2 linked regions of the Homo sapiens genome follow. The protein of the gene in region 2 interacts with the protein of the main gene of each other region in a biochemical or structural test. Each region holds a gene or a part of one and is shown on either strand. Other genes may lie near its edges.

Region 1 (3,749 bases), on a different chromosome or scaffold from region 2:
AGATCGAGACCATCCTGGCTAACATGGTGAAACCCCGTCTCTACTAAAAATACAAAAAATTAGCCGGGCGTGGTGGCGGGTGCCTATAGTCCCAGCTACTTGGGAGGCTGAGGCAGGAGAATGGTGTGAACCCGGGAGGCGAAGCTTGCAGTAAGCCGAGATCGCGCCACTGTACTCCAGCCTGGGCGATAGAGCGAGACTCTGTCTCACAAAAAAAAAAAAAAAAAAATTAGCCGGTGTGGTGGCGGGCGCCTGTAGTCCCAGCTACTCGGGAGGCTGAGTCAGGATAATGGCGTGAACCTGGGAGGCAGAGCTTGTAGTGAGCCGAGATCGCGCCACTGTACTCCAGCCTAGGCGACAGAGCGGGACTCCATCTCAGAAAAAAAAAGAAAAAAAGAATTTCCCAAAAGAAGGTATCCTTTAGGTTTTCATCCCTATGCCCCAGTCTGGAATCTCTACACACAGAATTGTGGACAGACTTATAGTCCAGATTGACAATGGCTAGTGATAGATACACTTTATTGTTGCCACTGGCATCAAATTTAAAAGCTTAGGCTGGCAAGCAAGGCCTCTCATTAAACAACCTTCCTTACCTCGTCTGTCCCTATCCGATAAAGCCCTTACTTTTCAGCTGAGTTGGTCACATCCATTTTCCCCTTCCTGTCTCTGTTCTTGCTGGTCCCTCCATCTGGATGGGCAGGGAAGGAAGAATAATGCATATCCGTTATTTCCTTCAAGACCAAGCCCTGTCTTACTTTATGTTTCAACAGCCATGAACACAAGGGATTTCTAGAATTCTACACTACCATACACTATGTTCCCCTGCTTCCTCATGGAGGTTCCTCTATTCTCCACAATTAGACTCTAAAGACGTGGTATTGAGTGGGCACTGACTGAAAGCTTATCTAGTTTATGAGTGGAGTGGAATCTCAGAAGGTAGAAGAATTAAAGGTTCAGGCCTCTCCTACCTTTATCCTGTATCAATCCCAAAACTCTTCTTTCTCCTCCATTATCTTTCCTGTCTATATAACTCCTTATCTTCAAGCTTAATGTAAGGGCAATTCCAGGCATGAAAAGACAACACAGTTTGTACTTTTGGTTTCATATTTTTTCAGTTAATTTCAGTAAAAACATAATATATAAAAGGCATTGCCACCATTTTCCCCTCCTGGGGGTGATCCATCAAGCCAGTGTGGGCTGCTCCAGTGGTTCATAGCTCATCATGCGATATGTGCAGGGCATGGTCACAAAGATCTGCAAATGGCAAACAATTTAAAGGAATATGCCATTCTCATACTGATATCTGCCAGTATCAAGAAAATTTCCCAGACCAAGCTGACACAAACACACACCAACCACCATTCTGCAGAATATATGCTTATAAATGATAAAACATCCCCACTGTCCTCTCACCTGTATCTCAGGGTCAAGGGGACACAAATTCTGAAAGCTGACAGAAAATGTGGAGGAACACCCCAAGTCCCTAAGCCAAGGGAAATGGAAGACAGCTCTTGACCTAATACCAGAGGTTTCTGGGATGGGGGTGTATGGGTGAGTTAGGGAATGTCAGGTTCCACAGAGCTACTAGAACAGGAGATAAAGTGGGGGCAGCTTACCTGTTCGCTTACTGCAAAGTTTGTCTTTAACATTGTCAGCCTCTCGGGAAAAGAATTCAATGAGTTCATCCTCGTATTCCTCCACAATGCTCTCACACTGCCAACCCAAGGGAGAAATGGGTGACACAGGGCAATAAGAGGCCTCTTGCCTTCACTTCCAAAGAGGAGGACAAGGATATCAGCCTAACTTTCTAATTGGTTCTCCAACAACCCCTTAATGTCCAAGAACCAGCTACCGATTCCCATAGCTCACCGCAAACTTGAGGGTGCCGCTAATATCTGAGTCGATTCGGATGCCTTGTAGGTCCAGTTCACTGGATTCTCCATTCCGGCCCACTACACGTACGTAGTTCTTGCGATGGGTGGAAGGATCAATCTGTTCCCCATACTCCTTCATCCGGTCACATATCTCCTCCAGCAGCTCTGTGAGGTGGGCCTCTGAGCGGGCATAAGGCACCTAGAAATGTCCTCAGCCTTGGGTCACTCTCTTCTACCTCTGTACATTAGTAATTTATATCCTTACTTTTCTTTCCAAATCTAGCTCCAACAACCTATTCTAAAAAGCTTTCCCTAATTGATTTTAATTAGTTTTGTTTGTTTGTTTGTTTTTTGAGATGGGGTTTTGCTCTTGTTGCCCAGGCTGGAGTGCATTGGCGCCATCTCGGCTTATTGCAACCTCTGCCTCCTGGGTTCAAGTGATTCTCCTGCCTCAGCCTCCTGAGTAGCTGGGACTACAGGCATGCACCACCACACCCAGCTAACTTTTGTATTTTTAGTAGAGATGGGGTTTCTCTGTGTTGGTCGGGCTGGTCTCAAACTCCAGACCTCAGGTGATCTGCCTGCCTCGGCATCCCAAAGTGCTGGGATTACAGACGTGAGCCACTGTGCCTGGCCTAGTGTGGTTTTCATTTATTTTATTTTATTTATTTATTTATTTTTTTGAGACGGAGTCTCACTCTTTCGCCCAGGCCGGACGCAGTGGCACTATCTTGGCTCAGTGCAAGCTCCGCCTCCAGGGTTCACACCATTCTCCTGCCTCAGCCTCCCGGGTAGCTGGGACTACAGGCGCCCACCACCACGCCCAGCTAATTTTTTGTATTTTTAGTAGAGACGGGTTTCACCGTGCTAGCCAGGATGGTCTCGATCTCCTGACCTAGTGATCCGCCCACCTTGGCCTCCCCAGGTGCTGGGATTACAGGCATGAGCCACCGCGCCCGGCCTGGTTTTAAATTAATATGGTTTACTTGATAGTTTCAAAGTACTTCTTTTTTTTTTTTTTTTTTTTTTTTTTGAGACAGGCCTCACTCCGTTGCCCAGGCTGGAGTGCAGTGGTGTGATGACTGAGGCTCACTACAGCTTGGATCTCCCAGGCTTAGGTGATCCTCCCATCTCAGCCTCACACAGATGCACACCACCACACCCAGCTACTTTTTTATATTTTTTTTGTAGAGACGGGGTCTTGCCATGTTGCCCAGGCTGGTCTCGAACTCCTGTGCTCAAGTGATCTGCCTGCCTTGGCCTCCAAGAGTGCTGGGATTACAGGTATGAGCCACTGTACTTGGCAGTAGTTTCAACTATATGATTTTATTTTACCTCATTGTACAATTCTTTTTTTTTTTCTTTTTTTTTTTGAGATGGAGTTTCACTCTTGTTGCCCAGGCTGGAGTGCAATGGCGCGATCTCGGCTCACCGCAAGCTCCACCTCCCGGGTTCAAGTGATTCTCCTGCCTCAGCTTCCCGAGTAGTTGGGATTACAGGCATGTGCCACCACGCCCAGCTAATTTTGTATTTTTAGTAGAGACGGGGTTTCTCCATGTTGGTCAGGCTGGTCTCAAACTCCCAACTTCAGGTAATCCACCCGCCTCAGCCTCCCAAAGTGCTGGGACTACAGGCATGAACCACCGTGCCCGGCACCTCATTGTACAATTCTAAGAAACAAGACAGTTAACATTAGCTCCAAGTTATAAACAGAATTTTTTGATTAACCTGATCAACTTATACTTCTAATTTCTATAGATGAAGATAATTTTTTTTTAAATTATAGTTTAAGTTCTGAGATACATGTGCAGAACGTGCAGGTTTGTTGCATAGGTATACATGTGCCATGGTGGTTTGCTACACCCATCAACCTGT
Region 2 (3,749 bases):
AGTCCAAAATAGTCAACTTCTATGATTCCCAGTCGCCTGCACACCTAAAACAAAAAGGAATGCAGCCTGGATGAGCAAATGGTACGTATCAAAGCAAACCCAACGGCTCCCTGAGGCTAAGATTGCTGGTGCTTTTTACAAAGTTCAATGGTGTTACAATTCCTGATCTAAACTGGAAAAACAAAGTTCCACGGCTCCAATGATACCAAACCACGAGCTCTAGTATGGAGGCTCATAATTCCTTTTAACGTCTAGGGCATGACCAATTGCAATAGAGAAAAAAGGAGTCCTCAAAAGTAGCCTTCCAAAAGATGAGGAGGGGAAACTACAGGGTATTTTCCTTCGTATTCCAATCACCGGAATTCCCTCCACCAGCATACTCTGCACAGCTGATTTTTGGCGACTTATTATCTGGGCAATTTTAACCATTTGGACTCCAAAAATCAAACACATTGAGGGAACACGCCACAAGTGTCAGCTAAGCTTCACAAGCGGTTTTCCAAACATCTCAGAGCTAGAGGGGTTGAGGGCACAGCGTTTTCCTGGGATCACATGTGCTGTCTGCCATACCACCTCTGCACTATTTGGCACCGATCTCCCTCACTGTTAAGGAAACACATGCTTAAAAACAACCGAGCAGTAGATGACCCAAACCTATTCCTCCCGTCCCCCGCAAACCCGGAGATGCAGGTGAACGGTGCATTTGAGAGCAGCAGCCTGAGAAGCAGCGTGAGACAAGGGCCCGGCTTGTCTGCCAAGAACCCCTGGGGCCCGAGACTGCTTCGAGCCACTCCATCCCATCCTGGCACGCGGGTGGCACTGCCAGGCGCCGCGGGGACCCGACAGGCGGCATCACGCACATACCTGCGGCAGGTGTGCGGAGCCGCCTTCTTCCGGGAAAGTGCTGGGTTGGGGGGATGATGGGGCGCTGGGGGGTGGATCCCGGCTGCGGGCTGCGCCCGGCCCTCAGCGCTGGGGACCCCCGCTGCGCGCTTTCTCCGCGCACCCCACGCGCGCCAGGAGGAGACCGCGCGCCCCACGCCCGTGGAGAGGAGGGGACGCGCTCCCCCCGGCTGCCGCCGCAGTGCCTCCCGGCCCCTAGTAGGGGGCGCGCCAGAGTGCCAGGCGTCGCTGCGAGGCCCCTCGGCCTCGCGGGACCCGCCGGGGCCCCTTCTTGCCCCTCGCCCTCACCTGGTTGAGGCAGTCCTCGCCGTTGGCTTTCGCCTCCACCTCCACCTCCATCAGCACCGCGTCCGGCCTCGTCACATAACACAGCATGGCTGGGGCTGCCGCTGCCGCCACAGCCGCCTTCTCTTTGGTGTGCGCGGGGCTGCCGCCTTGTCACTGGTGGGACCCAGCCCCGGACTCGGAGAGGGCTGGCCCTCGAAGGCTGCAGCTCTGCGGACCCTTGTCCGGGGCCCCGCGGCCGCCACTCGCGTCCCCGCCACCCCCTCACCCGCTGCCCGCCAGCTGCCCCTGTCCTCCGCGGTGGCGCCGCACTCCAGCAGCCCAACTGCCTGCGCTGCGACAGGGACTCTGCTGATATAGCGGCCCCGCCCCCTTCAGCTCGGGTCCCCGCCAATCACGGCCTCCCTGCCCCTCCTCCCCCGCCCGATCAGCCAATAGCGGCGCCCCTCGACCGCGGCCCCCGCCTCCCAGAGCCGGCTGAGTTTCCCTGGCCGCCCCGGGAGGTGGCAGCTTGCGGGCGCCGAGTGCTGCGGGAAGGGAGGGAGACCCCGGAACACACCAGCCGCCTCTGTCCGCTGGGCGACGCTGCTCAGAGTGAGCGATCGCCCGGGGCTCCAGGCGGGGACGCCTTTCTGCCGTCTCGAATTTACGGTGATTAAACACCTCCAAGCTGCCACTGTTCTTCAAATATCTTGGATCACTCTGAGCACGCATTTCGGTTGTGAAAGCAAAAAGGAAAAGGAGCAACCCAAAGCCTAAAGAAAACTGTTCTCGTCCGGGCATGGTGGCTCACGCCTGTAATCCCAGCACTTTGGGAGGCCGAGATGGGTGGATCACCTGAGGTCAGATTCGAGACCAGCCTGGCAAACATGGTGAAACCCCCGTCTCTACTAAAAATACAAAAAAAAAAACAAAATAGCCAGGCGTGGTGGCGGGCACCTGTAATCCCAGCTACCTGGGAGGCTGAGGCAGGAGAATCGCTTGAACCCAGGAGGCGGAGGTTGCAGTGAGCTGAGATTGTGTCACTGCACTGTAGCTTGGGCAAGAAGAGCAAAAAACCCTGTCTCAAAAAAAAAAAAAAAAAAAAAAAAAAAAAGAAAAGAAAAAGAAAAAAGAAAAAAAAAAGAGAAAAAGAAAACTCTTTTCCACCAGGATTAGCCACAGTGGGTTGCTTGGAGGCAGAATTGTTGTTCCTTATTAAGACCTCATCATTGAGAAAAACAAAATCTGAGTATGAAAGTTTTTGCAGCTGACCAGTGAGCCAGGTGTCTTGGTCTAGTGCTGGTGTGTTACACTCCGGAAGGGCTTCTCCTTACTCGTTCTGCTGAATCAAAACGCCTTACAGGGTACCAGGCCCTCTCTCAGGTTGCTCATTCTACCTCCTGTCTTATCTCACTCATTCATTAAACATTTGTGCAGCACCTGATACCCTGCCTGTCCCTTCTCACAGGCAACCAGATGTTGTCCTCGTCTTAAGGTAAGGTGCTCATCTCCTGACCTAACAGGTGGCATTACTGCAATATTAGCTATTAAAGGTCTACAACCCTTCACTCATTTACCGCTTGTTCCTCTTTGCCAATATATTACATAGCCTACCTTTTTGATTTCTTTATAGGAGCCAGATGATGTGGGTTTCAGCCGTGGAAACTTAGCAAACTTACTTCAGGCCAGCTCGATGGCTCACACCTGTAATCCCAGCACTTTTGGAGGCCGAGGCAGGAGGATCGCCTGAGCCCAGCAGTTTGAGACCAGCCCGGTTTCGCAACACAGCGAAACCCCATCTCTACACAAAATACAAAAAATTAGCCAGGCGTGGTGGCGCCTGCCTGTAGTCTCAGCTACATGGGAGGCTGAGGTGGGAGGATCACTTGAGCCTGGGAGTTCGAGGCTGCAGTGTGCTGTGATCCCCCTACTGCACTCCAGCCTAGGCGACAGAGCAAAAGACCCTGTCTCTAAACAACAACAACAACAAAAAGAAAACAACGAAAGAAAAAAAAAGAGAAAACTTACTTCATCTGTCTGAAGCTTGGTGTTGTCAACAGTAAAATGGAGATGGCAATATCTGCTCTGTCTCCACCCAGCATTGTTGGGAAGCGCAGCAAAGATAATAACGTTCACAAAAGCATTTGAATGTCCCCGTGTATGTAAGGGGAGCTATAAGTTCAGTGCCTTCACTGCTTAATGATGACTTTTCCTGTCCCTACCCCCCTTCACGAGTCCCAAGGATCTGTTAGTGGCCTTTATTTCCGAACAACCAGGTACGATATCAGAGCCCAAGGCTAAAAAAAAAGGAGGGATCCTCCCACACACAGTTCTTTGCTAAAGCTGACCGAGTAAAACTGTAAACTGTCCAAGTCCTAACCCCCACTGTTGCAGAGGAACAGGTGCACTCTCACATCTTTCTGTCTTATAAATACACCTCATGCTATTGTGGGCTGAAACAGTCCCTTCTTGTATTAACTGCAGTGCCTATTCCCTGAATTCCAGTTTACTAATAATCTGGGGAATTTATCTGGAAGATAGCGTTTGGTTCATTCCTTGTCTACTTTATGCTTAATTGC

The links.
Region 1: the proteins of MYLIP (region 2) and CNPY2 form a complex in vitro, tested with the Homo sapiens proteins (2 studies listed by BioGRID).

Annotation. Positions count from the first base shown.
Region 1 is NC_000012.12:56,309,342-56,313,090, forward strand, and holds the end of CNPY2 (protein canopy homolog 2 isoform 1 precursor), read right to left. Parts: intron 3,159-3,749; exon of another isoform or gene 2,074-3,158; coding exon 1,870-2,073; intron 1,714-1,869; coding exon 1,617-1,713; intron 1,255-1,616; coding exon 1,211-1,254; 3' UTR 503-1,210; downstream 1-502. UniProt on the Homo sapiens protein: Positive regulator of neurite outgrowth by stabilizing myosin regulatory light chain (MRLC). It prevents MIR-mediated MRLC ubiquitination and its subsequent proteasomal degradation.
Region 2 is NC_000006.12:16,126,852-16,130,600, reverse strand, and holds the start of MYLIP (E3 ubiquitin-protein ligase MYLIP), read right to left. Parts: upstream 1,516-3,749; 5' UTR 1,279-1,515; coding exon 1,192-1,278; intron 45-1,191; coding exon 1-44. UniProt on the Homo sapiens protein: E3 ubiquitin-protein ligase that mediates ubiquitination and subsequent proteasomal degradation of myosin regulatory light chain (MRLC), LDLR, VLDLR and LRP8. Activity depends on E2 enzymes of the UBE2D family.